4 linked regions of the Homo sapiens genome follow. The protein of the gene in region 1 purifies or fractionates together with the protein of each later gene. This does not show direct contact. Each region holds a gene or a part of one and is shown in the gene's direction. Other genes may lie near its edges.

The links.
Region 2: the proteins of SIRT1 (region 1) and HIC1 purify together in Homo sapiens (affinity purification with western blotting; 4 studies listed by BioGRID and IntAct, with this or other methods). This does not show direct contact.
Region 3: the proteins of SIRT1 (region 1) and ZEB1 purify together in Homo sapiens (affinity purification with western blotting; 4 studies listed by BioGRID, with this or other methods). This does not show direct contact.
Region 4: the proteins of SIRT1 (region 1) and TULP3 purify together in Homo sapiens (affinity purification with mass spectrometry; 6 studies listed by BioGRID and IntAct, with this or other methods). This does not show direct contact.

The regions. Positions count from the first base shown.
Region 1 is NC_000010.11:67,879,838-67,887,655, forward strand, and holds the start of SIRT1 (NAD-dependent protein deacetylase sirtuin-1), read left to right. Parts: upstream 1-4,818; 5' UTR 4,819-4,884; coding exon 4,885-5,314; intron 5,315-5,343; exon of another isoform or gene 5,344-5,562; intron 5,563-7,579; coding exon 7,580-7,696; intron 7,697-7,818. UniProt on the Homo sapiens protein: NAD-dependent protein deacetylase that links transcriptional regulation directly to intracellular energetics and participates in the coordination of several separated cellular functions such as cell cycle, response to DNA damage, metabolism, apoptosis and autophagy.
Region 2 is NC_000017.11:2,051,198-2,058,128, forward strand, and holds the start of HIC1 (hypermethylated in cancer 1 protein), read left to right. Parts: upstream 1-3,905; 5' UTR 3,906-4,041; intron 4,042-5,112; coding exon of another isoform or gene 5,113-5,149; intron 5,150-5,473; coding exon of another isoform or gene 5,474-5,493; coding exon 5,494-6,931. UniProt on the Homo sapiens protein: Transcriptional repressor. Recognizes and binds to the consensus sequence '5-[CG]NG[CG]GGGCA[CA]CC-3'. May act as a tumor suppressor. Involved in development of head, face, limbs and ventral body wall.
Region 3 is NC_000010.11:31,315,091-31,322,217, forward strand, and holds the start of ZEB1 (zinc finger E-box-binding homeobox 1), read left to right. Parts: upstream 1-4,125; 5' UTR 4,126-4,144; coding exon 4,145-4,202; intron 4,203-4,424; exon of another isoform or gene 4,425-5,117; intron 5,118-5,192; exon of another isoform or gene 5,193-5,357; intron 5,358-5,463; exon of another isoform or gene 5,464-5,608; intron 5,609-6,110; exon of another isoform or gene 6,111-6,435; coding exon of another isoform or gene 6,436-6,442; intron 6,443-6,569; exon of another isoform or gene 6,570-6,745; coding exon of another isoform or gene 6,746-6,761; intron 6,762-7,127. UniProt on the Homo sapiens protein: Acts as a transcriptional repressor. Inhibits interleukin-2 (IL-2) gene expression. Enhances or represses the promoter activity of the ATP1A1 gene depending on the quantity of cDNA and on the cell type.
Region 4 is NC_000012.12:2,893,883-2,900,910, forward strand, and holds part of TULP3 (tubby-related protein 3), read left to right. Parts: intron 1-7,028. UniProt on the Homo sapiens protein: Negative regulator of the Shh signaling transduction pathway: recruited to primary cilia via association with the IFT complex A (IFT-A) and is required for recruitment of G protein-coupled receptor GPR161 to cilia, a promoter of PKA-dependent basal repression machinery in Shh signaling.

The DNA.
Region 1 (7,818 bases):
TAGCTGGGATCACAGACCTGTGCCACCACACCTGGCTAATTTTTAGTAGAGACAGGGTTTCACAATATTGGCCAGGCTGGTCTCAAACTGTTGACCTCCTGCCTCAGCCTCCCAAAGTGCTGGGATTACAGGTGTGAGCCACCACTCCCGGTCATGTTTTAATGTTATTTTATTTTATTTTTGAGACGGAGTCTCACTCTGTCACCTAGGCTGGAGTGCAGTGGCGCAATCTCGGCTCACTGCAACCTCCACCTCCCAGGTCCAAGTGATTCTCGTTCCTCAGCCTCCCGAGTAGCTGAGATTACAGACGTGCACCACCATGCCTGGCTAATTATCGTATATTTTTAGTAGAGATGGGGTTTCACCATTTTGGCCAGGCTGGTTTCGAACTCCTGACGTCAAGTGATCTGCCCACATTGGCCTCCCAAAGTACTAGCATTACAGGCATGACTGACCGCACCCGGATGTTACTTTATTTATTTTTTTTGAGATGGAGTCTCACTCTGTCGCCCAGGCTGGAGTGCAGTGCGTGATCTTGGCTCACTGCAAGCTCTGCCTCCTGGGTTTCCGCCATTCTTCTGCCTCAGCCTCCCGAGTAACTGGGACTACAGGCGCCCACCACCACGCCTGGCTAATTTTTTTGTATTTTTAGTGGAGACGGGGTTTCACCATGTTAGCCAGGATGGTCTCAATCTCCTGACCTCATGATCTGCCCGCCTCAGCCTCCCAAAGTGCTGGGATTACAGGCGTGAGCCACTGCGCCCAGCCGTATTTTATTTTTTTGAGTTAGGGTCTTGCTGTGTTGCCCAGGTTGGAGTGCAGTGGCTAGACCGTGGCTCACTGCAGCCTCGACCTTCAGGCTCAAACAGTCCTCCTGCCTCAGCCTCCCAAGTAGCTCGGACTACAGGCGCAAAGCAGGATGCTGGACTAATTTTTAAAGGTTTTGGAGAGATGAGGTCTCACTGTGTGGCCCAGGCTGATCTCAAATTCTTGGTCTCAAGCCATCCTTCCACCTCAGCTTCCTAAAGTGCTGGGATTATAGGTATGAGCCATTGTACTTGGCTAGGACATTTTTTCACTACGTATCCCTGACTACTAATAGGTTTGAGCATATTTTAAATTTTTATATTGTCAAATATTTTTATCATTTAAAAAATGGCTCCTGCCTTGCTAAAAAGTTCTTTCTTGATCCAAAGTTATAAATATTCTAAAATGTCATATTTTTATTTTTGTATTTTTTCATTTAGATCTTCAATCCATCTGGAATTTTTAATTTTTTATATTTTTGAGATGAAGTTTTGCTCTTGTTGCCCTGGCTGGAGTGCAATGGTGCAATCTCGGCTCACTGCAATCTCCGCCTCCCAGGTTCAAGCAATTCTCCTCCCTCAGCCTCCCAAGTAGTTGGGATTACAGGAATGTGCCACCACACCTGGCTAATTTATTTTTTAGTAGAGTCAGTAGTAGTTTGTCCATGTTGGCCAGGCTGGTCTTGAACTCCCGACTTCAGGTGATCTGCCCCCCCTCAGCCTCCCAAAGTGCTGGGATTACAGGAGTGAGCCACCGCGCCTGGCTGGAATTTATTTTCGTATATTGTGTGAAGTAGGGATTTCCATTTGTGTTTTTCAGTTTTGACAATAACATTTTATTAGTACAAAAGAGTTGATACTAACTCCCTTACTAATTGTAGTCACATGAGACTGATATCAGAGCTATTAGGCCAATTTATTTTTTTATTTATTCATTTTTTATTTATTCTTATTTTTATTTTTTTTGCGATGGAGTCTCACTCTGTCGCCCAGGCCAGAGTGCAGTGGCGCGATCCCGGCTCACTGCAAGCTCCGCCTCCTGGGTTCACGCCATTCTCCTGCCTCAACCTCCCGAGTAGCTGGGACTACAGGCGCCCGCCACCACACCCGGCTAATTTTTTGTATTTTTAGTAGACACGGGGTTTCACCGTGTTAGCCAGGATGGTCTTGATCTCCTGACCTCGTGATCCACCCGCCTCGACCTCCCAAAGTGCTGGGATTACAGGCGTCAGCCACCGTGCTTGGCAGGCCAATTTATTAACTTAGGAGAATAGAACTACTAAGTCAGCCAGAATATTAATGTTCTTTTTTTTTTTTTTTTTTTTTTGAGACAGAGTTTCACTCTTGTTGCCCAGGCTGGAGTGCAATGGCACTGTCTCAGGTCACTGCAACCTCCACCTCCTGAGTTCAAGCGATTCTCCCGTCTCAGCCTCCCGAGTAGCTGGGATTACAGGCGCATGCCACCACTCTGGGCTAATTTTTGTATTTTTAGTGGAGACGGGGTTACATCATACTGGTCAGGCTGGTCTCGAACTCCTGACATCAGGTGATCCGCCCGCCTTGGCCTCCCAAAGTGCTGGGATTTATAGGCGTGAGCCACAGCGCCTAGCCTTAATGTTAGTTCTTAACCAGTGGTAGACCAGAAGTCTAATTGGGATTTTTTGTTTTTGTGTTTGTTGTAATACAATTTCTGTTTCTCATTTATCCTACCTGAAAAGCATACTGCATCTCTGACCTCTCAGCATACTAACAATAATATTGATCACATAGCATTTCTTGTAGTTCATAAACTTCACGTGTCAATAATATACTATAAATATAAATGAATTAATGAACAACAGGATGCTCATAAGCTTACAGACATCTTTTTCTCAAAAAAGCTGGGAATTTTGTTTCTGTTTTATTGGGATACTGACTCTCAACATTTCATATATTGCATTCCACCAACGTAGCTGAGAGTCAATTTATGAAATATTTTGTAGTGTAAGACAGAAAGTGGGGAGGACCAAGTATGTCAACCACTAGGAGTGTGGTGCCTAGTCAGGAATTGGGAGGAGTGTAGCAAGAAAGGAAGGACAACAGGATTTGGTCATTGATTGGTCAGATGGATTTCAGAGGGATTGGTATGAAGGAACGCTTCAAAGATTTTTTTTTTAATTTAAGTTCCAGGATACAGGTGCAGAATGTGTAGGTTTGTTACATACTTATAGGTGAGCCATGGTGGTTTGCTGCACCAATCAACCCCTCATCTAGGTTTTATTTATATTTTTTTTTGAGACGGAGTTTCGCTCTTGCTGCCCAGGCTGGTGTGCAATGGTGCGATCTCGGCTCACCGCAACCTCTGCCTGCTGGGTTCAAGCGATTCTCCTGCCTCAGCCTTCTGAGTAGCTGGGATTACAGGCATGTGCCACCACGCCCGGCTAATTTTGTATTTTTAGTAGAGACGGGGTTTCTCCATGTTGGTCAGGCTGGTCTCGAACTTCCGACTTCAGGTGATCTGTCCGCCTCGGCCTCCCAAAGTGCTGGGATTACAGGCAGCAGCCACCGCGCCCAGCCAGGTTTTAAGTCCCGCATGCATTAGCTATTTGTCCTAATGCTCTCCCTCCCCTTGACCCCCACGCAACCAAAGATGGTTTTAAGGCTTCTAGGACTGGAGATGATTACTTTCAGAAATGAATAGTGGTGACCAGATGAAATAAGACTTTTGGATGTAGATAGGACCTTAGCGATATATTTCCAGCTTTTTATTTTTTATTTTAAGGATGAAGAAACAGCTTTAAGTTGGTTGCCTAAAGTCACGCAGGTAATTGATGCAGTATGGCCAGAACCCATACTAGGCTTAAGGGACAGTGTACCATAAACTCGTAGAGGTCCTTTAAACAGATAGAAACGCTGTGCTCCAGGCAGATGCCATAACAAACACTGGCTCTAGATCTACCATGGGTTATATGGGTCCTTAGTTAAGATTAGATATGGAGTCACAGTGTGCCAGAATTTCAGGGAGAGAGGAAAGTGGAAGGGCTTTCCACTAAGCCTTTTGAACTACTAGGTACCCCTCGTTTTACATCTGGTTATCTCATTTAAATCTATGACGTTTTAAAATACTTATTACCATTTAAGACATGAGAAAAATTAAGTTTAGAAACGGCTAGATAGCTCACGCTAGAAAGGAAGGACTCCAAATTTTAACCAAGGGCAGATGTGCATGGAGGCCAAGTCATTTCCTTCCCATGCTCTCATACTGACCCAACAAACCCATTCTGCACGTGAGAAAACTGAGGCCCGGAGGAGGGAATTCACACACGTTTGAAGCCAAGCTGGGGCCAGAAAGTAGATCGGCTGATCTCCAAACCTCCACGTCAAAGGTCTTCCCAGGAGGACATATGCCTTCAAGGATTTTACAATGTATACCACCCTACAAGTGATGGGAGAGAGGGGAAAAAAGCAACCGACTAAGGAGAAAAGCAAGGAGCAGAAAAAGGAGCAAAAGAGGAGCTGTCAGAACGGTGTGAGGAGAGTGGGAAAGGAGCCGCCTCCTTTTGCCTCTCTTCCTACTTATTAACAAAACAGAACGACTATCCAACGTATTTCAGGGAGCTAAGTCTTAGCCAGCTTCAGCTGTGTTTTAACCCTTAGCTAAATATAGACAAGGCTAAGGCAGGCCAGGTGTACACTTCAGGAAGACGTGGAAATTCCCAGGGCGGACCAAAACTTGAGCTGTTCCGGCGGTAGTGATTTGAGGTCAGTTTGAAAGAGAAGTTGAGAAAGCGGCCGAGGGGCGAATTTGGCTGCACTACACGCTCGCCACAAAGAGGAAGGGCCGCCGGCCGCCGGGGCCGAGTGCGCTTCCAGCCCAGGCGGAGCGGTAGACGCAACAGCCTCCGCCCGCCACGTGACCCGTAGTGTTGTGGTCTGGCCCGCGTGGGTGGCGGGAGCGCCGAGAGGGCGGGGGCGGCGATGGGGCGGGTCACGTGATGGGGTTTAAATCTCCCGCAGCCGGAGCCGCGGGGGCGCCAGTGCCGCGCGTCGAGCGGGAGCAGAGGAGGCGAGGGAGGAGGGCCAGAGAGGCAGTTGGAAGATGGCGGACGAGGCGGCCCTCGCCCTTCAGCCCGGCGGCTCCCCCTCGGCGGCGGGGGCCGACAGGGAGGCCGCGTCGTCCCCCGCCGGGGAGCCGCTCCGCAAGAGGCCGCGGAGAGATGGTCCCGGCCTCGAGCGGAGCCCGGGCGAGCCCGGTGGGGCGGCCCCAGAGCGTGAGGTGCCGGCGGCGGCCAGGGGCTGCCCGGGTGCGGCGGCGGCGGCGCTGTGGCGGGAGGCGGAGGCAGAGGCGGCGGCGGCAGGCGGGGAGCAAGAGGCCCAGGCGACTGCGGCGGCTGGGGAAGGAGACAATGGGCCGGGCCTGCAGGGCCCATCTCGGGAGCCACCGCTGGCCGACAACTTGTACGACGAAGACGACGACGACGAGGGCGAGGAGGAGGAAGAGGCGGCGGCGGCGGCGATTGGGTACCGAGGTGCGCAGGGTGCGGGCGGCCGGAACTGCGCATCTCCTCCTCCCTCTCCCCGGGCTCCTACTGGCCTGAGGTTGAGGGCGGCTGGGGGCTCGGGGCAGGCTCCGCGGCGTTCCCCTCCCCACCCCGGCCCTCCGTTCAGCCGCGCTCCTCCGGGGCTGCGGTTCCTACTGCGCGAGCTGCCAGTGGATTCGCTCTTTTCCTCCGTCCGTGGCCCGCCTGGGCGGCCTTGTTCTTTCCGCAGCAGCCAGGTCGGGAGACTCTCGCAGTCGCTTTAAAATAAGTTTCTCTCCCCCTCTTACTCTTTTAGCATATTGCTTTTGTTAGAGCTTTTTTTTTCTTTTTCTTTATTTTTTATTTTCATTGCTTTTCTCCTCTACCCCCCAGCACACTTAAGTCTGCAACTTTTTGGCTGTCCCGTTGGTCTGCGTTTTCAATTGCTTTTTGCAAACTTGACACCTGTGCAGTTTGCTTTTTTTGGTCTATATTTTTATGACTGAAATTACAATTTTTGAAAGAGGAAAGCTGTTTCTATAGTCACAGCTTGCAAAATTTAAAGAACGTGGCTGTTCCTGAAGACATTACCATTCTGTAATGCAGTTAGGAGTGGGTATGGGAGAGAGAGTACTTTTAGAGCTGTTCATATTACTTTTATTCTAATCTTGCTCTTGTGCGGTAATGGTGTTTGGGCTAAACATGCTTTTTTTGTATGTATGTAGTATTGAGACACAAACTTAACACTTCTAGCATAATGAAGCAGATATGTTGCAGTTGTCATGTTCTTGAAGGTTTCTTTTTTTTTTTTTTTTTTTTTTTGAGACGGAGTCTCGCTCTGTCGCTAGGCTGGAGTGCAGTGGCGCGATCTCGGCTCAGTGCAACCTCCGCCTCCCGCGTTCAACCGATTCTCCTTCAGCCTGCCGAGTAGCTGGGACTACAGACACCCGCCACCACGCCCAGCTAATTTTTGTGTTTTTAGCAGAGACGGGGTTTCACCATGTTGGCCAGGATGGTCTTGATTTCTTGACTTCGTGATCCGTCCGCCTCGGCCGCCCAAAGTGCTGGGATTACAGGCGTGAGCCACCGCGCCCGGTCAGGTTTCTTATTTTTGATCTGAGGAGTTTCTATCCTTGATAGGTGTTCATCTTTATCAATATTTGGGTCAGGCCGGGCGCGGTGGCTCTTTCGTGTAATCCTAGCACTTTGGGAGGCCAAAGCGGGAGGATCTCTTGAGCCTAGGAGTTTCAGGCCAGCCTGGGCAACATAGCGAGACCTCCTCTCTACTAAAAGTAAAAAAAGCGGGACGTGGTGTCGCACACCTTTAGTCCCAGGTACTAGAGTTCGAGGTTGCAGTGAGCTGTGATCCTGCCACTGCACTCCAGGGTGGGCAACAGAGTGAGACCCCGTCTCAAAAAAAAAAAAAAAAAAAAGTAATATGTGTTTTTAGGGACTGATTTAGTAAAGAGACCCTGATTTCAAGCAACACAGTTGAGTACTAATTTATTATTTACCTAATAATAATTGTGTTATTAATACTGTTTATTTAATAGAGGAAACAATGCAGAGGTACTTGTAGTATTGTGTAAGTTTAACGTGCGCATTGCCAAGGTTATATTTGAATGACGTTTTTATGTAAATGTCCATTTATTACACGTTTCACGAACGCTATTGTTTGTGATTGTATGATACATTCTAGCTAGATTATTATCTTTTCTTTTTTTTTTTCCTTTTCTTTTTTTTTAAAAGGTGGAGTTTCGCTCTTGTTACCCAAGCTGGAGTGCAATGGCGTGATCTCGGCTCACCGCAACCTCCGCTTCCCGGGTTCAAGCCATTCTCGTGCCTCAGCCTCCTGAGTAGTTGGGATTACAGGCATGCGCCACCATGCCCGGCTAATTTTTGTATTATTAGTAGAGACGAGATTTCTCCATGTTGGTCAGGCTGGTCTCGAATTCTCAACCTCAGGTGATCCGCCTGCCTCGGCCTCCCAAAGCTCTGGAATTAGAGGCGTGAGCCACCGCTCCCGGCTATCTTTTCTGTTTTTTAAGTAGACTTAATTTATTTTTAGATTTTGGCTGAAACTGAGTGAGCAGAATTCCTAAAGATGAAGAAACTGTTCCAATGAACAGTGCAAGCTGACCCCATAGGCATGCTTTACACACGCCGTGTAAATGTTAAATGCTGTACTCGATGAAAATGATTGCTCTATAACCGTTCATACATTTTAGGTGCATGTTGTTTTGATAGCCTTGACTGACTTGGTTTCTTTTGCAGATAACCTTCTGTTCGGTGATGAAATTATCACTAATGGTTTTCATTCCTGTGAAAGTGATGAGGAGGATAGAGCCTCACATGCAAGCTCTAGTGACTGGACTCCAAGGCCACGGATAGGTATGGCTCAGAGCTGTTAATTTTAGAGAGTAAATGTACGGTTTTTGGTTTGTTTGTTTTGAGACAGAGTTTCGCTCTTGTTGCGGAGGCTGGAGTGCAATGGCGCGATCTCGGCTCACCGT
Region 2 (6,931 bases), on another chromosome or scaffold:
CGTAGTACTCGTGCGGCGGCTCATTCATGCGGCCGCGGCTCCTACACACTGACGCGCTGCCGACGTCAGCGGGGAATTTAGGAAATGGGAAAAGGGGCTATTTATAGTGGCGAGGCGGGGGGTGGGGACCGAGGCGACCGGGAGGGGAGGAGGGGGCGCGGAAGCGGCGGCGGGGTAGGGGGAGCCGCGCCCCTGCCCAGCCGACAAGGGGTTAACTTTCCGGAACCGCGGGCCTGGGGCCGGGGAGGCGGCGCGGAGGGGCGCGGCGGGCCCTTCGAGCTTATTCACGCTCTCCTTCCGGAGCCCCGCGGCTCCTGGGGGTCTTCACGTGGCAGCCCCTTCCCCCTCCTCAGTTCCTGGACCTGACGTTTCTGCCGTCACACCCCGCAAGGCCACTGCGGTGTCGCCACCCTCTCGTCCTGCAGGGTGGGCAGGAGAGGAAGCTGGACTCCCGTGGGGGCCTGGGGCGCAGCGAGGGCTGTGGCGTCGGGGGCCGGGAGAAGAAGAGTAGGGGAGCCCAAAGTAGCCCAGGAGTCTTTAGCGGAGGAACCTGGGCCTGGGAGGGAAGGCCCAGCGGGGATTCAGGTACCACCCAGGAGCTGGAGACCCGAGGGACGGCAGAGAAGTTGGGGAAGGTGGGCCAACCTCCCCAGAAATGATGAGCAACGGGATCCTCTATGAGGGAGCTGGGGGAACGCGCCAGAGGTAGGGGTGAGAGGAATGGGCAGCCTCAGCAAGGGAGAGAGGAAAGGCTGTCAGTGCCACGCTCCAGAGCCTGGCATCCAGGACCCACCTTCGGACCATTTGTGGCACGATGGACGCTCCCAGAGCTCACGTTAGGGTAATAGAGAGTGAAGGAGACCAGCAGCTTGGCCAAGAGGGGCCCCCAGGGGATGAGGAGGACGGTTTCCTGGAGAAGTTAATGTTCCCGGAGACCAGAATTGGCAGGGAGAGCCCATGACTTGTGGGGCAGTTCCCCTGGTTGGGAGCGGGGAAATGCATGGTCCTGGCCCAGCCTGGCTCCATCGAGATGGAGGAAGGGTCTAAATGAGAGGAGTGTGTTCAGACGAGGAGCTGGACCAGGATGGGGAGGGCTGTGCAAGGCATGGCCGGAAGAGCGGGGCAGGGAGAGAAAGGTCGAAGAGTGAAGTGCACAGGAGGGCAAGGCGGTCCTCACCCTGCCTGGGCTGGGGCAGGGCTGTGAGACCCTCCCTTACAGAAGCAATGAGGGCTTGAGGAGGGGGTTAGGGGCCTGGGCTGGGGCAGGGCTGTGAGACCCTCCCTTACAGAAGCAATGAGGGCTTGAGGAGGGGGTTAGGGGCCTGGGCTGGGGCAGGGCTGTGAGACCCTCCCTTACAGAAGCAATGAGGGCTTGAGGATGGGGTTAGGGGCCTGGGCTGGGGCAGGGCTGTGAGACCCTCCCTTACAGAAGCAATGAGGGCTTGAGGAGGGGGTTAGGGGCCTGGGCTGGGGCAGGGCTGTGAGACCCTCCCTTACAGAAGCAATGAGGGCTTGAGGAGGGGGTTAGGGGCCTGGGCTGGGGCAGGGCTGTGAGACCCTCCCTTACAGAAGCAATGAGGGCTTGAGGAGGGGGTTAGGGGCCTGGGCTGGGGCAGGGCTGTGAGACCCTCCCTTACAGAAGCAATGAGGGCTTGAGGATGGGGTTAGGGGCCTGGGCTGGGGCAGGGCTGTGAGACCCTCCCTTACAGAAGCAATGAGGGCTTGAGGATGGGGTTAGGGGCCTGGGCTGGGGCAGGGCTGTGAGACCCTCCCTTACAGAAGCAATGAGGGCTTGAGGATGGGGTTAGGGGCCTGGGCTGGGGCAGGGCTGTGAGACCCTCCCTTACAGAAGCAATGAGGGCTTGAGGATGGGGTTAGGGGCAGTAAGTTAACTTGGGGAGCGGATGTGGGGGAACGCTGAAGAATAAAGACTGTGGGCACAGCAGACCCCTGGGGCAGGTTAGCAATGCACAGACTCCACTGCACAAGATACATGGGGCGGAGGGGCTCTTTGGAAGTCGGGGGTGGGGGATCTGACTCTATCAAAAAGAGAAAAGATAAAAGAGATGGGGTCAGAGAGGCCCTGCATAGTCTGGATTTGGCCTACTAGAGCTCCAGTTTTCTTGCCGCTAGCCTTTGTTCCAGGGATTCTGTTATTCACAAATGCCTTCCTGCTCGGTAGAAGAACTCCTATTCATCCGTCAAAGCCCAGCTCTAGGAGCACTTATGAGGAGCCTCTCCACCTCCCCTCAACACTCCGTAACTTCCACCTCAGGCCGCAGCACGTCCCTCGGGCGAGATGTCGGGGTCCGCCTTCCCTAGAGACCGGCAGCTCCGGAGGCCTCCGTTTTCCTCTTTGGGACCTCACTGCTTCTAAAGTGAGGATGCTATGGGGAGACATGGGAGAGGGAGTGGGTAAGATGGATCCAGAACATGGGGCGGACTCAGGCAGCGGCGGGAATCAGGCGGACTCGTTTGGACCGAAGCCTCCGCCAGGCACCGAAGCCGTGAAGTCGCCTGCGCAGCAAAGGGAGCCTCCGGGGGGCGCCCGAGACCTTGGTGTCGCTCGGGGGCCGCTGGTAGCCGCGCCCGCTGCCCCTCGCCCGGTGACTCAGCCGGTACCTCTGGCGGGGCCATGGGGGCCAGAGGACAGCGCGGGGGGCGGCGAGCGCGGTTGCTAAGCTCTCCAAGGCCTCGGAGGGACAGGATCTGGGCGCACCTCACCGGTTGCCATGGTAACGCAGCGCCCCAGCCCCTCGCGCTCCGCGGTGGAGGGAGGCGCAGCCAATCGGAAGCGGCGGAGTTCTCGGGGACCCCCCCCCCCCCCGCTCCACGCCGTGTGTGGGCGGGGGTCAGGAGGTGCGGGGCGGAGGCGGAGCGTGGGCCGCGGAGATCCGGCGTTCGCAGGAGGCTTGGTGCGCGGCGGGGCTGCACGGGGCCACTTCCGGAGTAGTACTGCGAGCAGCGGCGCGACAGTGCGGGGTCCCCTTTCTCCCAGAAGAGACGTCACCCACACAAACCTGACCTTCACGTGGGGCGCGGGACCTTGCGGGGTCCCAGCCGCAGGCGCCCCTGTTGTTTCCTTCGGGCGGGTGGGTTGGAGAAGAAGTCCACGCGGGATTCTTCAAAACGGCGTACAGGGGGATTCTAGGGCCCCATGGTTACTTCTTTGGACCCCCCGGAGGCGCTGTCCAGCCACTTCCAGTCGCCCTGATGACTCGTCGTGGGTTCCTTTAGGAGACCCGAAAGTTCAGGGCGGGCTGTGTGGGTAACACCTCTGCCCAGGTTCCCGGAGGGCCCTACGTGGCTGCCCCTGGAGTATCCCAGAGCGCTAGGGCTGCGGGAAGGGGCGGGTGTGCTTCTGGAAACATGAGCGCCTGTTAGTATCAGTGCCTGGATAGGGCTGGGGACAAATCAGTTTATGCCGCGCACACCGAATCCATGCGCCTGAGTGAGGGTGGGTGTGTTGGGGAGTGCGTCCAAGTGGACAGTGCCGTACAGTAATGTCTACGGGGAGTTCCAGGAGAGCTCGGCTACTCCTGCGCAGGATAACCTCTCCCCCACCACCCGAGTCCCGTGCTCGCGGGCAGGACTTTTCCGAACTGGGGCTGTGTGCCTAGAAATACGTACATGGGAGCGCTCAGCTCAAAGCCCCAGGGTTTCTGGGACTCGCGTGTCCGGGGTCGGGGTCCCAGGTGGGTACAGGTGGGAGGGCGAACCTGCGGGTAGGGTGGGCCCCTCCCCGCGGGCTCAGCATCTGTGCGCCTCCAGCTCAGGTGCGCGGGAGGAAGGCAGCGGCCTGCCGCGCAGAGCCCTGCGCGCCCGCGAGGTGGCGCCATAGCCGCAGCAGCGCCCGCCGGCCCGGGCCGCTCCAGATAAGAGTGTGCGGAAAGCGCGGCGGGGCTGAGACGCGACCAGGACGCGGGGAGGACGGACCAGCAGGACAGACCGACCGGGGGCCCGGCGGGCGGAGGGCAGCGCAGCCACGTCCCCCCTGGATCCGCCGTCAGCCGGGCCCGGGGCTTTCGACATGCCCCCCAGGTGGGTCCTCGAGCCGGGGACCGGGAGGGACGGGGGACCCGGGACAGCCCGGTCCTCGTGCGTCGGCCGCCTCGGGTGCATCTTCTGGCGCGGGTGCCCCATCGCGGCTGGCGGCTGGCGTTCAGGGCTCCGGGTGTCGTCCCTTTCGGACTCAGGACCACCGGGCCGCGGCTCCGCGCCGGGTTCACGGCGGGGTCAGCGGCCCGGGGCCGGCTCTGCCCGCACATGGGCTGGAGAGGCGAGGGGAAGGGAAGGGAAGGGGAGCTGGCGGGCGGGGCTGGCAGGGGCGCTGCCCTGGCACAGCTCGGGGCCTGGCAGCGGCGGGTGGGGCATCGGCTAAGAGCTGCCACCGCCGCGGGGAGGGGAGCCCGGCCCGCCGGGACCGCAGGTAACGGGCCGCGGGGCCCCGCGGGCCAGGAGGGGAACGGGGTCGGGCGGGCGAGCAGCGGGCAGGGGAGCTCAGGGCTCGGCTCCGGGCTCTGCCGCCGGATTTGGGGGCCGCGAGGAAGAGCTGCGAGCCGAGGGCCTGGGGCCGGCGCACTCCTCCCGCCCTGTCTGCAGTTGGAAAACTTTTCCCCAAGTTTGGGGCGGCGGAGTTCCGGGGGAGAAGGGGCCGGGGGAGCCGCGGAGGGAGGCGCCGGGCCCGCGCGTGTAGGGCCCAGGCCGAGGCCGGGACGCGGGTGGGGCGCAGGCCCGGGTCAGGGCCGCAGCCGGCTGTGCGCCGTGCCCGCCCGGGGCGCTGCCCCCTCCCTCCCCTGGGAGCTGCGTGGCTCCCCCCTCCCCCCCACCTGCTTCCTGCCTCAGCCTCCTGCCCCGATATAACGCCCTCCCCGCGCCGGGCCCGGCCTTCGCGCTCTGCCCGCCACGGCAGCCGCTGCCTCCGCTCCCCGCGCGGCCGCCGCCCGGGCCCCGACCGAGGGTTGACAGCCCCCGGCCAGGGCGGCGCCAGGGCGGGCACCGCGCTCCCCTCCTCCGTATCACTTCCCCCAACTGGGGCAACTTCTCCCGAGGCGGGAGGCGCTGGTTCCTCGGCTCCCTTTCTCCCTACTTGGGTAAAGTTCTCCGCCCTGAATGACTTTTCCTGAAGCGGACATTTTACTTAAATCGGGTAACTGTCTCCAAAAGGGTCACTGCGCCTGAACAGTTTTCTTCTCGGAAGCCCCAGCACCCAGCCAGGTGCCCTGGGGCGTGCAGGCCGCCCTGGCCTCCCCTCCACCGGCGGCCGCTCACCTCCTGCTCCTTCTCCTGGTCCGGGCGGGCCGGCCTGGGCTCCCACTCCAGAGGGCAGCCGGTCCTTCGCCGGTGCCCAGGCCGCAGGGCTGATGCCCCCGCTCAGCTGAGGGAAGGGGAAGTGGAGGGGAGAAGTGCCGGGCTGGGGCCAGGCGGCCAGGGCGCCGCACGGCTCTCACCCGGCCGGTGTGTGTCCCCGCAGGAGAGTGTGCTGGGCAGACGATGCTGGACACGATGGAGGCGCCCGGCCACTCCAGGCAGCTGCTGCTGCAGCTCAACAACCAGCGCACCAAGGGCTTCTTGTGCGACGTGATCATCGTGGTGCAGAACGCCCTCTTCCGCGCGCACAAGAACGTGCTGGCGGCCAGCAGCGCCTACCTCAAGTCCCTGGTGGTGCATGACAACCTGCTCAACCTGGACCATGACATGGTGAGCCCGGCCGTGTTCCGCCTGGTGCTGGACTTCATCTACACCGGCCGCCTGGCTGACGGCGCAGAGGCGGCTGCGGCCGCGGCCGTGGCCCCGGGGGCTGAGCCGAGCCTGGGCGCCGTGCTGGCCGCCGCCAGCTACCTGCAGATCCCCGACCTCGTGGCGCTGTGCAAGAAACGCCTCAAGCGCCACGGCAAGTACTGCCACCTGCGGGGCGGCGGCGGCGGCGGCGGCGGCTACGCGCCCTATGGTCGGCCGGGCCGGGGCCTGCGGGCCGCCACGCCGGTCATCCAGGCCTGCTACCCGTCCCCAGTCGGGCCTCCGCCGCCGCCTGCCGCGGAGCCGCCCTCGGGCCCAGAGGCCGCGGTCAACACGCACTGCGCCGAGCTGTACGCGTCGGGACCCGGCCCGGCCGCCGCACTCTGTGCCTCGGAGCGCCGCTGCTCCCCTCTTTGTGGCCTGGACCTGTCCAAGAAGAGCCCGCCGGGCTCCGCGGCGCCAGAGCGGCCGCTGGCTGAGCGCGAGCTGCCCCCGCGCCCGGACAGCCCTCCCAGCGCCGGCCCCGCCGCCTACAAGGAGCCGCCTCTCGCCCTGCCGTCGCTGCCGCCGCTGCCCTTCCAGAAGCTGGAGGAGGCCGCACCGCCTTCCGACCCATTTCGCGGCGGCAGCGGCAGCCCGGGACCCGAGCCCCCCGGCCGCCCCGACGGGCCTAGTCTCCTCTATCGCTGGATGAAGCACGAGCCGGGCCTGGGTAGCTATGGCGACGAGCTGGGCCGGGAGCGCGGCTCCCCCAGCGAGCGCTGCGAAGAGCGTGGTGGGGACGCGGCCGTCTCGCCCGGGGGGCCCCCGCTCGGCCTGGCGCCGCCGCCGCGCTACCCTGGCAGCCTGGACGGGCCCGGCGCGGGCGGCGACGGCGACGACTACAAGAGCAGCAGCGAGGAGACCGGTAGCAGCGAGGACCCCAGCCCGCCTGGCGGCCACCTCGAGGGCTACCCATGCCCGCACCTGGCCTATGGCGAGCCCGAGAGCTTCGGTGACAACCTGTACGTGTGCATTCCGTGCGGCAAGGGCTTCCCCAGCTCTGAGCAGCTGAACGCGCACGTGGAGGCTCACGTGGAGGAGGAGGAAGCGCTGTACGGCAGGGCCGAGGCGGCCGAAGTGGCCGCTGGGGCCGCCGGCCTAGGGCCCCCTTTTGGAGGCGGCGGGGACAAGGTCGCCGGGGCTCCGGGTG
Region 3 (7,127 bases), about 37 Mb from region 1:
AAAGAGAAAAAACAGCAGTAGAAACCAGCTATCAGACCACTGATATCATGGTAAATAATTAAAATTCACTTAAATCAAAAATATGTGTGTTGCTTCCTCTCAAGTTACCTACATATAATTAAGTGTAGAAAAAATTAAATGTTATTCATATTCATAAGTAATATTAGTAATAGAAACTACAATCTAACTTCTATGGAGGCAGCCTTTGAAAGAAATCCTTTTTAATTACTGTGACTTCATGGAAAACACTAGTTTTACTTTTTGGATATTCACCGACATCCTGCAAACATCTTTCTCCATATATTTATATCTATCTCTGTATTACACACGTTCCTGAAAAATCACCTCGTAAATAAGAAACTACACGTGTTAACATTTCATTGACTTACATTAAAAATAGGAGCCTCATTCCCCAGAGGGGTAAGAACCATTCTGTGGTAAACTATGTAACAAAAATCACATGGAAGTATGGAGAAAACATTTGTCCCTGTGATATCTCCTGGGAGGCTGTATTCGAAGGGCTGGCATGGGTCCTGTGGCCAACTGTGGGTTCTGCATCACCCTGTAGTCATGTTTCCTTCCTGACTCAATGACTGCAGAATTTGGTGAGACTGCAACAGTGAAATGACCATTGCCCTCCTTTGTTCCACGGTGAACTGCAAATCCAGAATTACTGTAGGTCAGGAGCCATGGTCAGAGACAAGAATTGAGTAGCGGCTTTATGGGACCTCTACATTCTGTACTTTGAGGGATAACATGTATCACATTCTTTTTCCTTCAAAAACTCTAAGATTAAAATTAGGTATTGAATTCAAGAGTTGCATTTACATGCTATCCTTCCATGAAATTAACGAACTTTAAATTTTGATGAAGACTAGAGAATTATACATTGCACTTCTCAATGTGTTTTGGAAGAGGTATGTGGGAATGATATGCTTCATGTGGAACACCGTGAAATCTCTACATTTTAAACTTAAGATAATTTTATGTCAAATTTTATCCTAATTTATACAGGAATCATATATGAAAAGCAAATAGGTGCAAAGGGTTTATGAAAAATTTATAGAAAAAACTCAGTATTGGAACTATTCTATCCATTTACATTTTTCCCTGTAAATTTGGAATAGTATAGAAATTCATTTTTAGAATATCTTCCCTTCAGCATATATAATCCCAGTGCTCAGTAGAAGCAGTGTGTTAACATTTCATTGACATATTAAAAATAAGCATATATATTGAATGTATGCTGTATGACAGCACTACAATTACTAAAACCAAGAATGCAGGATACATGTTAAAGTCATATATTAGTATCCCCTACCGTTTGATTTGAATAAACCTAAATTTTAATAATCTTCTTTTATAAATTGATTCTAAAGATTTTTCCCCTATTCTTTAGCTGTATTTAAGAGATAAGAAGCAACCGTCACACATGCATCATGTTTAAAGCAGTAATTTATTCTGAGATTTACTTTTGTCTGTTTTCTTTCCAGTCCAGGTATCAATATTTTCAAGAATATTAAAGTATAATAATCAAACATTCAATTCATAACATATATGCTTATCAGAAGCTTTTACAAAATGGAAATTTTATGTTAGAAGATTTGGGCTACCAGTAATATTCACTGTGCATATTTTAAAAAAAAAGGTGAACAGAGTTCATTGTTTAGGGAAAATGATTATGGAGAAACTAAAATCAAGAGCAATTTTAATGTGGATATTAATGACAGTGATCACTTTCATATCCATGACTTTATCTGTTCCTAAGGACTAAAGGGATGAAGGCAGATTATGTACCTTACTGTCAAGAACAGGGTCAGAAAAGGTCAACAATATTAATTTAAGAAATGTTTATTAAGCATCTACTATTGGCTACGTACTCCACTAGGTGTTGAGGACATAGAAATAAGAAAAAAAAGTTACCTGAAAAGGTACTTGTCCACAGTTTGGCCCAAACTAACTAAACCAGAAACCACTAAAGTAAGGAAGAAAATGACTTCTGTTTGTCTCTTCACTTCATCTCTCTATGAGGTGAGGATGAACACTGAAGGAAGCTTAGCAGGGAGGTACAGGCCAGAAAGAGAACATGAGAAAATGCTATTTGTAATACCTCCTAAGTTTAAGAGTAGGTAAAATGTGTGATAGAGCTGGAAAGTTTTTTTTTCCTTTCTGGTCAGAAATCAGGGTAGCTGTAAAAATGTTGGTGGGGTGGGGTCAATTCCATAGTCTATGACCTGATTCGGTAGGCGACTGAAAAACATTGTACAACTCTTAAAAAAAGGGAGGAAGAACTCACACTTAACCAAGCAAAGCAAGGACACCGTGTTGACATACACAAGTTTCGGTTAACATGGTATCAAGGAAAGCGAGGACTGCCTGTACTTAAAATGATCATTAAGACTAATGATTCTAGTTTTGGCATTGAGGATGAATGCAGATATATAGACATAATGTATAGCAAAGAATATTTACAGTCACATTTCATGGACCAATAAATAACGCATTTACTTCTCAAAATGCCCAAGAAAATGTGGGAGAGAAAATGTTCATTTATATTCAAGATTAAACTTTCTAACTTTAAATCATCAGACTTCAGCTGTAAATTTATTTCAGTTGAAAGGTTTGAAGACATTATTAATGAATATTCTAAAATTCCGGAAGGTGTTTAAAAGATAATTTTAACCTAATAAAAAAATCCTGCCATAGAAGTGACAAAAATTATAAGCATAAATTTATTGAGCACCTACTATGTGTCATTGTGCTAGGTGATGTACTACGTTATTTCCAATACTCCGGTCACGTTTCAGTTTTCTCAATTTCTCTATCAATAACTGCTACATTGTTAATTTATAACTATATTACTTGAAATACAGCTCAGCTTATTTATTCCATAAAGTTGGTCCCAAAGACGTTTCCTTATTCGAAGGAGGTGGGAAGCAGGAAGGAAACCTAAATCTAAATTCTACTTAATACTGAAGACGACTTTCTTGATATTTGTGGTTATCTGTATGGTCTTTTCAGAAATCCCAAAACTTGTACCAAGTCAAGGATAAAATAAGATAAAATCAGCAATCTATCAGGTTCAGAGATCACATCTGTCAGCCGATGCTTCTTGCCTTAAGGTCCTGCACGGCGATGACCGCTCATTTAGGAAGGAATTCATGGCCTGTGGATACCTTAGCTCTGAGTCCTGCCACCTAGGATCCCACGGTTCTACGCGAGGAAGAGGGCGGGGAGCGCGGACCGGGTGTGGGAGGCCGAGGTGACAGCAGGTGAGGGCCGGGTGCGGATGGGGAAGTGAGACAAGCACCGTGTGGGTATTACTCATTCCGCTCTACTAAGGAGGCTGCTGGCAAGCGGAACTTCTAGCCTCTCTTTCAATCCAGCTGAAGTTCAATCTCATTGAAGTCACTTCCCATCCCGGTTCGCTTGGGGGGAAACCAGGCGTCCCTGGAAGGGAAGGGAAGGGAGTCCGGGCTGCGCGGGTCAGGTAGCCTCTCTCCGGTCGCCGCGTGTCCTCGCCGTCCCCAAACCTGCCCTTCCCCTCATCAAGGGAACTCCCCGGGGAGTCCAGACCGCGATCCCTTTCCTTGGCCCCGGGGTGCGGGGGGCGGACACGCGAGGCGTGGGACTGATGGTAGCCCTGCCTCCAGGAAGCAGGCAGGCGGGGACCTCTGGGCGCTCGGAGGGGCAGCTCCGAGGGCACAGGGTACAGGGAGAATCAGCCAGATCCCTCCCTGCCCCGGGCAGCCGCGGCGGGTGTGGCCAGCGCGGAGGCAGGACGCCGCCGAGCCTCCAACTTTACCTTTCCAACTCCGACAGCCCGTCGCCTTTCTGACCGCGTCCCTACGGTTTCCCGGCATCCGCCTCCCTCTCCCCACCACACCTGAGGAAAACTTTTCCCTCGCCCCTCAATTCAAATTCAGCAGTGCCCACGGTTGCCGCAAACCGCCCGGTCCCTAGCAACAAGGTTCCGGCCGTAGAGCGAGAGCCTCTAGGTGTAAGGAAGGTGATGTCGTAAAGCCGGGAGTGTCGTAAACCAGGTGCGGTGGGGAGGGGGGAGGGGTGGAGGCGGAGGGGTGGGGGGGAAGGGGGAGGGAGGGGGAGGAGGTGACTCGAGCATTTAGACACAAGCGAGAGGATCATGGCGGATGGCCCCAGGTGTAAGCGCAGAAAGCAGGCGAACCCGCGGCGCAATAACGGTGAGTGGCGGAGGGGACCGGGGAGCGGCGGAGTCAGGGGGAGCTGGGCAGCCGGGGCGCCCCCGGGGGTGAGGGGGGCGAGCCGGGCTGGGGGCAGCCGGGGCAGGGACGGCAAAGTGGAGTGGGAAAGTAGAAAGTAGTGCTCTCTGCCCCCCTCCGCTGCCGCCGCTGCCGGAGCCGCGCCGCGGCCGCTCGCTCTCCCTGAACCGTTATGTCTCTTACCTGGTCTCTCTCCGCCTAGCGGCTCCCGCCGCCCCTGCCGCCTCCCTGGACCGTTAGCCGGCGCCGACGCCGCCGCATCCCCGGCGCAGGGCGGGCGGCCGGGACGCACTGGCCACTTTTCTGGTCCCGGGTGGAGCGGCTGTTGCTTCTTTCCGCACTTTTCCCCACTCTTGTGCCCTTCGGCGCCTCCCTCTCCCCCTCCTCCTGGCCCCCTCAGCGCGATTCTCCCTCAGCGCCCAGGCCCCCGGGAGCCGCGGAACAAACTTGTGCCCGGCGCTGACCGTGCAAAGTGGCTTCCGCGCGCCGCGGCCCCGGCCGGCGCCGTCGCTGTCGCTCGGGCCCCGCGACTCGGGCCGGGCTGTGGGCGCGCGGCAGGCGGGCTGCGGCGGCGGCGGGACGGGGCGGCCGCGGGTTGCGTGGGGTTTGTGCGCGCGTGTGCGCGGGCGCCGGCTGTGCGCGCCGCGGGCGGACAGGGTTCGGCCGGCGGCGGTAAAGTTGGGACCCGCGGGCCGGGCGCGCTCGCGTAACGGGGATTAGAGGCGCGGGGGCGCGGGTCCCTAAGCGCCCCTCCTCCCTGGCGCCTCCCGCTGCCCGGCCCAGAGCCCCGGCCTGGGGACTCCGCGGCGAGCCCCGCGAGTGGGGTCCACGTTTGGCGGGGCGCGGCGGGGCGGCGCGGGGAACAAGGCAGGAAAGGTACCCACTTAACGCCGCCGGGAGCCGCGCGGATGGGGGCGAGCTGGGCGGCGGGTGTGTTTGCGGAGTTGTTACCTGGGCTTAGAGACCGGGAAGCACCACAGACAGATCCCCCTCCCGGGGCAGACGAGGTCTCTGCGCCGGGATGGGCCGGTGTGCGTGCGCCTCGCGCTTTTCTCTTTCGGTTTTTGGGGAAGTTGTTACCTGGGCCGGACGCACGGAGCGCTGAAGCCGGATAATGGGGCTTGGATGGCGCTCTGGGTCTCGGGTGGAAGGAGGGTGGGGGAGGGGGCGGACGGACCGACGGACGCGCGGGGCTGCTACTTGCACCGCAGCTGCAGTGTTTATTGATTTGTGCTGCTGTGCCAAGGGAAACACACACCCCTCTGCCTGGCGTGAGAGTTAAAAAAAAAGAGAGACAGCCCGAGGGATCGAGACCTGAACATGTGGTGGTGGTTGCACAGTCGCCTTTTCCAGTTTGGAGAGACGTTGTAAGTTGATTGTATTTCTGGTTATCTCGGGGCGATGCTATGCTTTCTCTCCCTCTCGTGCAGCAGCGAAATGTCTGCTGATTGTTATTGTCTGGACAGTTCCTGTGGCGAGAGGGGCGAGACTTGTCCGCCCGGGGGCGGCGGGAGCGCAGGGAGAGCAGCCCCCGCCTGCGCCGCCCCGGTACCTGTTTGTATAATAATGGGCGGCAACGGCCCTGCCGCCGGCCGCAGCCCAGGCTATATAAGGAATTACACGTACATTTCGGACCGAGGGGCTCGCTTTGGTTCCTGCGTTATTTTTAAAACGACTTTTAAGAGAGGGGCAATAAATGCGTCTATAATGGGACCGCTGCAGCGTCGAGAAAACGAGGAAATACGTGTTTAGGAGAAAACTCTCTCGTGCTCCCCCAGCCCCACCCCCCGCGCCTGGGCTCCCTTTCTCCCTCCCCTCTGGGATGCGAAACGCGAGGTTTTGTAACCTTTCCTGGCAATTTTAGATTTTGTGTGGGATTTCCTGTCTAGAAGCAGATACGAAGATTTTTAAGCTGTTTCAAGATGTTTCCTTCCAATCCATAATTATATTTTTAATATATTCGAGCCATCATTAAAATCACTGCTTTCGTGATTTTAATTATTCAAATAAACACTTGCATTTTAAAGACGTCTGTTGATTATAAACGAAAGGTATTTTGGTATTCTCATTGTGGAGAGATGACTTGTTATAGCAAGGAGTGGAGCATAGGCTATTGCAATTTTAATTTCCTGTTTTAGCGTCAAATAGTGTGTGTTCCATATTGAGCTGTTGCCGCTGTTGCTGATGTGGCTTTATGAAAGGTAAGTTGGTTCGGAAAGAGCTGTTCGCTTTTTACCTTATTTAAAATGTTGATCGCCAGAGAAAGGGGCTTTTCTTGTTGCTGACGACATGTGTGTGACATGTGAGTCTGAACCACCCAGCGTCTGTGCAGCTGCTGTAAACATGTTTACCTGAACAGGAAAGAATGGATTTTTCTCCTTGAGATCCTGTGATATGAATATTACACTCGTAAGGCATATCAACAGATGACTTAAGGGGGGAAAAGCGATCCTGAAAGATACTTGAAATCAACAGGAAAGAGAGGTTCTTGATCGCTGCAGCAAATGGCAACTTGTGCAGGTAGAAAAAAAGATGGTGTTTAGTTTTCTCCTGCATGTATGTCAGCCCCCTCCTGTCTGCTGCTTTCATTCTCAAGGGAGGGATTTATTTACCACGCTTGCTGTCAGTGTTTTTCCTTTGTGTTTAATATTAGAAAAACAGATTTGCGTCTGTTTAGCACAAAACGTCTTGTCTGCAGTATGCATTACTCTCAGAAAACAAAAGGTGTTTAAGATAGCACTGTACTACTACAGGTATCTTCCATTTTCATCACTTTTGGCTCTGTCCTTGTATTTCTTTTTGTTCTCAAATGCATTTCATCCATTGCTGGTGATTATAGCCATGCTATTTGATTTAGCCTTATATTTTGCAAATTAAAAATGAAGT
Region 4 (7,028 bases), on another chromosome or scaffold:
ATCCTCCTGCCTCAGCCTCCCAAAGTGCTGGGATTACAGGTGTGAGCGACCAGGCTTGGCCTATTTTCTTATATCAGAAATGTTTAGTGAAAATTGGAGGTGAAATTTGAAACAACACTCAGGACCTTTGTTGAGGCTAGGCATTTTATAATATAGATTCCCTGGAGATGACGGGGGTTGGCTGGTGCTGGAACTTGAGCCCTATCTGGCCTTTTGTAAGTGATAGAGAATTGAGAATTGAAGGCGTGCTTCCCACTGTGGTGTGACCTTGTGAGCTGGAGTCATCTAAGAAATCCCAGTCGGTGGTTTGTCCATATACCATGATTTCTCTTTAGAAATATAAACAGTAGGCTGGGCATGGTGGCTCACACTTGTAATCCCAGCACCATGGGAGGCCGAGATGGCGGGGGGGCGGGGCGGGGGGGGGGAAATCACCTGAGGTCACGAGTTCAAGACCAGCCTGACCAACATGGAGAAACCCTATCTCTACTAAAAATGCAAAACTTAGCCAGGCATGGTGGCAGGTGCCTATAATCTTAGCTACTCAGGAGCTGAGGCAGGAGAATCGCTTGAACCAGGGAGGTGGAGGTTGCAGTGAGCCAAGACTGTGCCACTGCACTCTAGCCTGGGTGACAGAGCAAGACTCCGTCTCAAAAACACACACACACACACACACACACACACGCACGCACACAAAAAAGAGATCTGTCAAGATAAAAAGCTCAATAATAGGCTAGGTGCAGTGGCTCATGCCTGTAATCCCAGCACTTTGGGAGGCGGAGGTGGGCAGATCACGAGGTCAGGAGTTCAAGACCAGCCCAACCAACATGGCGAAACCCTGTCTCTACTAAAAATACAAAAATTAGCCAGTTATGGTGGTGTGTGCGTATAGTCCCAGCTACTCCGGGAACTGAGGCAGAAGAATTGTTTGAACCTGGGAGGCGGAGGTTGCGGTGAGCCGAGATCACACCACTGCACTCCAGCCTGGGCGACAAGAGCAAAACTCCATTTGAAAAATAAAATAAAATGAAATAAAAATAAGAAATAGTGAAAATAAATAACATTCCCGAAGAGAGAAAATATAACCCCTGAGAAGGGAGAATTGGGCAAAAGTTAAAACGAACTTAAGTTCTGAGTAATGTCTGTTTGAATCTACAAGTAATAAATGCATTCTTTTAACTTCTGGATTAAATCATACATCTTAAATAGCCTTTTTGTTTAGTTCACTCAAAAGAATGCTTTTTGCTTTTGCTGTGTGGTACTTGCAAAATCAGGAGGGGTTTACTCTAAAATAGTTTTCCCTGCAGCATTCTTTGGGGCTATGGGAATGCTCAAATCAGCGGCCAGCCTTTGCTTCTCATTGCCTCCCTCTCCCCAGGCAGTTCTCCCTGCTCTGATTGTGTCTCTACTAAATGGGCCTCCTAGGAAATGGATGTTCATTCCCTGGCTTCAATTAAGTTAGCTCCAGATTGTGGCCGTCTTTCAAGTAGAGGACAGCTGAGCTTAGAATACTAACATTTCTCCCTAGATGAGGAAGGATAGATGTCAAAGGAATTCTTTTCTGACACTTCTCATATGACCTTTATGTGTCTTTTCTCAGAAGCAATATTTTGTTCAAGCCAGATGTGTTCTTGGTGTGTCAGTATGTGTAAAAACATGGCCTTCGAATATTGACATTTAGGATTTGGACAAGGTGAACCTATTTGTCAATTGAGTTAGGAAACATACTTTGTTAATAGCTCTTTCCACAATTATCTGAAATTGTTATCAGTTTGAACATGATGAAATCTGATGCCTCTTTCACTCTATACAGTTATTTGCCACTTAATGATGGGGATGCATTCTGAGAAATGTGTCATTAGTGGATTTTGTTGTGTGAACGTCATAGTGTACACAAACCTTGATGGGATATCCTACTACCTACCTAGGCCCTGTGGTACAGTCTGTTGCTCCTAGGCTACAAAGCTATACAGCCTGTTACTGTACTGAATATTGTAGGCAATTGGAACACACTGGTAAGTATTAGCATATCTAAACATAGCAAAGGTACAGTGAGAATACTTTTTTTTTTTTTTGAGACGGAGTCGCATCTTTGTTACTCAGGCTGGAGTGCAATGGCATGATCTCGGCTCACTGCAATCTCTGCCTCCCAGGTTCAAGTGATTCTCCTGCCTCAGCCTCCCAAGTAGTTGGGATTACAGGCGTGCACCACCATGCCCAGCTAATTTTGTATTTTTAGTAGAAACGGGGTTTTACCATGTTGGTCAAACTGGTCTTGAACTCCTGACCTCAAGTGATCCACCCGCCTCTGCCTCCCAAAGTGCTGGGATTACAGGCGTGAGCCACTGTGCCTGGCTGACAATGTGGTGTTATCATCTTAGGGGACCCCTGTTGTATATGCAGTATGGTTGACCTAAATGTCGTTATTCAGGGCACTCCTCCCCAGGGCTGCTTAAAAATCCATTCACTGGCTTGGAAGTTCTACCTAAAAATAGCAAGTCAGCTGGCATTTTTAATGAACATATTGAAATACCAGAGAATGAAATTCCTGTCTCTGCTGACCATTTTAATACACGTGTTCAGTCGTGTGGTTTAACACATTCAGGTAGATTGGGAGTGAGACTTGTGATTGAATTTGGGCTCTTTCGCTGATCAGCTGTTTGACCTTTAGAATATGAACTATAGTTGTAAGTTTAAAATTGCTTTCCTGTGATGTGTAGAAAATAAGGCTGTAACAAAGCAAGAAATATTTTTCAAATATGCTCCTGGAAAAATAAAATTATTGCTATTTAGCTTTGCAGGAAGAAACTTCAATAAATCTACAAGGTAGGTGCTATAATCTCATTTTACAGAGAGATATGAAACTCATATGAAAGGAGTTCACCTCCTTTCTCCCGAAATTCATTTAGAGCATCTATGAGTTTCATATCTGTCTGTAAAATGAGATTATAGTGCCTACTTTGTCAAGGTTATCGTGAAAATTATCACACATCATATGTGAAAAATAATATATATTTAATATAATTCCTGGCAGGCAGTATTAAATATTCACTAAGTAGAACTGTACTTAAGTGCAACTAGCAGAGTGACAACACATTTTAACAATGTTTCAATAACAATACAATTTTGGACTTTTAAATTTTTTTTTTGGAGTCTCGCTCTGTCGCCTAGGCTGGAGTGCAGTGGCAGGATCTCGGCTCATGGCAACCTCCACCTCCTGGGTTCAAGCAGTTCTCCCTGCCTCAGCCTCCTGAGTAGGTAGGATTACAGGTGCCTGCCACCACCCCTGGCTAATTTTTGTATTTTTAGTAGGGACAGGATTTCACCATGTTGGCCAGGCTGGTCTCGAACCCCTTACCTCAGGTGATGCACCTGCCTCGGCCTCCTAAAGTACTGGGATTACAGGCATGAGCCACTACGCCCAGCCTAAAGATTTTTTTAATACAGGGGAAATTATTAGAAATTTCTGGGTTTCCAACATTCGAAAGCTTTTGAAAGGTGATAAAGTATTATGATGAAATCATTAGTCTTCTCACTGAAGTGAAGATTAAGGTAACACATTCATTTGTAGTATTAAGAAGTATTGTAAAACAAAAATCTTCCCAGGCACAGTGGTTCAGGCCTATAATCCTAGCACTTAGGGAGGCTGAGGCAGGAGGAAGGAGATCACTTGAGGCCAGTAGCTCAAGACCAGCCTGGGCAACATAGTGAGACCCCCTGTCTGTCTGTTGGTCTGTCATGTTCGTTTGTTCTCTCTCTCAAGACATAGGGTCTTGCTGTATTGCCCAGGCTAGTCTTGAACTCGGGCCTCAAGTGATTCTCCCACCTCGGCCTCCCAAAATGCTGGAAAGGCATGAGCCACTCTGCCTGGCCCGAGACCCTGTCTCTTAAAAAAAAAAAAAAAAAAAATTCTAGGCCCAGTGCGGTGGCTCATGCCTGTAATCCCAGCACTTTGGGAGGGCAAGGCAGGCAGATCACCTGAGGTTAGGAGTTAGAGACCAGCCTGGGCAGCATGGTGAAACCCTGTCTCTACTAAAAATACAAAATTAGCCAGGTGTGGTGGCGCATGCCTGTGATCCCAGCTACTTGGGAGGCTGAGGCATGAGAATCACTTGAACATGGGAGGCAGAGGTTATAGTGAGCCAAGATCGCGCCATTGCACTCCAGCCTGGGCAACAAGAGCGGAAACTAGATCTCAAAAAAAAAAAAAAAAAAAGATATAATAGCAGTTGCAGTTTGAGTGCTTACTATGAGCCAAGTTTCATTTAATCTTCACAATAACCTTCTGAGTTAAGTGTCATTGTCCTCACTTTGTAAATTAGGAAACTTGAGGCTTTACTAGGTTAAGTTGTACTGGGAACTGTGCTGTAACCACATAGCACACGTCTCTAAATGGGGACTTACAATTAGTTTGAACTAATATAGGCCAAGCCAGGGGTCAGCAGACCTTTTTAATTATTTTTTTTCAGATGGGGTCTTGCTTTGTTGCCCAAGCTGGTCTTGAACTGCTGGACTTAAGCCATCTTCCCGCCTCAGCCTCCCTAGCAGCGGGGACTATAGGCATGCACCATCACCCCTGGCCAGTAGTCCTTTTCTGCGAAGGTCTTAACCAAACGTTTTTGGTTTTGTGGGCCATACAGTCTCTGTCCCAGTTGCTCATTACTCAGTTTTGCTGTTGTAGCACAAAAGCAGCCATAGATAATAGGTAAGTGAATGAATGTGTCTATTTCAATAAGACTTTATGGACACTGGAATTTGAAGACTTTTTTCTTTTTATTCATTACTTCCTGCACAGTGATAATTTCTTTTGGGCTGGGGGGACAGGTTCTCACTATGTGCCCAGGCTGAGTGCAGTGGTGCAGTCGTAGCCCACAACAGCCTTGAACTCCTGGGTTCAAGCAGTCCTCCTTCCTCTGCCTCCTGAGTAGCTGGGATTACAGGTGTGCACCACCACACCTGGCTAATTTTTAAATTTTTTGTAGAGACGGGTCTCACTATGTTGCCCAGGCTGGTCTCAAACTCCTGGCCTCAAGCAGTCTGCCCACATAGGCATCGCAAAGTGCTGGGATGACAGGCATGAGTCACTGCACCTGGTTGGAATTTGAATTTAATATAATTTTTACATGTCTCAAAATATTATTCTTCAGATATTTTTAACCTTTTAAAAATGTGAAATTCATAGGCTGGGCACAGTGGCTCACGCCTGTAATCCCAGCACTTTGAGAGGCTCATGCGGGTGGGTCACCTGAGGTCAGGAGTTAGAGACCAGCCTGACCAACATGGAGAAACCATGTATCTACTAAAAATACAAAATTAGCCGGGCATGGTGGCCCATGCCTGTAATCCCAGCTACTCGGGAGGCTGAGGCAGGAGAATCGCTTGAACCCAGGAGGCTGAGGTTGTGGTGAGCTGAGATCACGCCATTGCAATCCAGCCTGGGCAACAAGAGCGAAACGACGTCTCAAAAAAAAAAAAAAAAAAACAGCGAAATTCATTCTTAGCTCAAAGGCAGTACAAAAACTGACGGCAGGCCAGATTTGGCCCACACGCTATAGTTTGCAGCCCCTGTGCTAAATCATAAAAGTATTTTTTCCTGGAAGGTCATAGTTATTCATACTGTGAATATTATTTAAGAGAGCATTGAAGATTGTTTTTATATTAAAATGGAACCCGTTACCTTATGGAATAAAACCCAGAATTTAATTTTCAAGATAAAACTTGGAGGCGGGGGCCGGGCGTGGTGGCTCACGCCTGTAATCCCAGCACTTTGGGAGGCCAAGGTGGGCGGATCACGAGGTCAGAAGTTCGAGACCATCCTGGCTAACACAGTGAAACCCTGTCTCTACTAAAAATACAAAAAATTAGCCGGGTGTGGTGGCAGGTGCCTGTAGTCTTAGTTACTCGGGAGGCTGAGGCAGGAGAATGGCATGAACCCAGGAGGCGGAGCTTGCAGTGAGCAGAGCTCATGCCACTGCACTCCAGCCTGGGCGACAGAGCGAGACTCCGTCTCAAAAAAAAAACAAACAAAAAAAAAAACAAAAAAAACTTGGAGACGGCTGTGGTGGCTCACATCTGTAATCCCAGCACTTTGGGAGGTTGAGGCAGGCGCGTCACCTGAGATCACGAGTTCGAGACTAGCCTGGCCAATGTGTTGGAACCCCGTCTCTACTAAAAATACAAAAAAAATAAAAAATTAACCAGGCGTGGTCGCACTCCTGTGTTCCCAGCTACAGGGGAGGCTGAGGCAGGAGAATAGCTTGAACCTGGGAGGAAGAGGTTGTAGTGAGCCGAGATCGCGCCACTGTACTCCAGCCTAGCGACAGAGCAAGACTCTGTCTCAGAAACAAAAACAAAAAAACTTGGATTCTAAAGATACGTTGTTCTGTAGATGGTCTCTGGACCGTACTTTCCTCCTTTCTCCTCAATTTCATTTAGAGCATAAAAGCACTTTCTTAGGCTGTTTGAAGCACTTGGATTGGAAATGTTGCCTGCAGTAACCTGTATAAACATCAATATATCAATAACAGATTATTAGTGCAAAATTTAAATGTCCAAAAACTGAAAGGGAATAATGATCGGTGACTGGGTCTATGAAATTACAAAAGTAAAGCCTAAGGGAGATGGCAAGCTTTCCTATTCTGCTACCCTTGTCAGCTGATGTCTTGGTAGAATTAATAAAGTACTCTTTTTAAACTCAAAAACATCTGTTTTGAATAATACTTTTTTTTTTAACACCCTACCTTTGAGGTAACTATTGTTAATAGTTTGTGTATATCCTTCTGGAATTCTTCTATTCCTGTAGACCTTGCAGATACTTTTTTTTTTTCTACTTGCAGTTATTTTTATTTTTTGTTTTTTGAGAGTGTCTTGCTCTCTCACCCTGGCTGGAGTGTGGCGGTGTGACGATAGCTCAACCTCCTGGGCTCAAGCAATCCTCCCACCTCAGCCTCCCAAGTAGCTGGAACTATAGGCATGCGCAACCAAGCCGAAATACTTTTTTTTTTTTTTTTTTTGTAGAGACGGTTTCA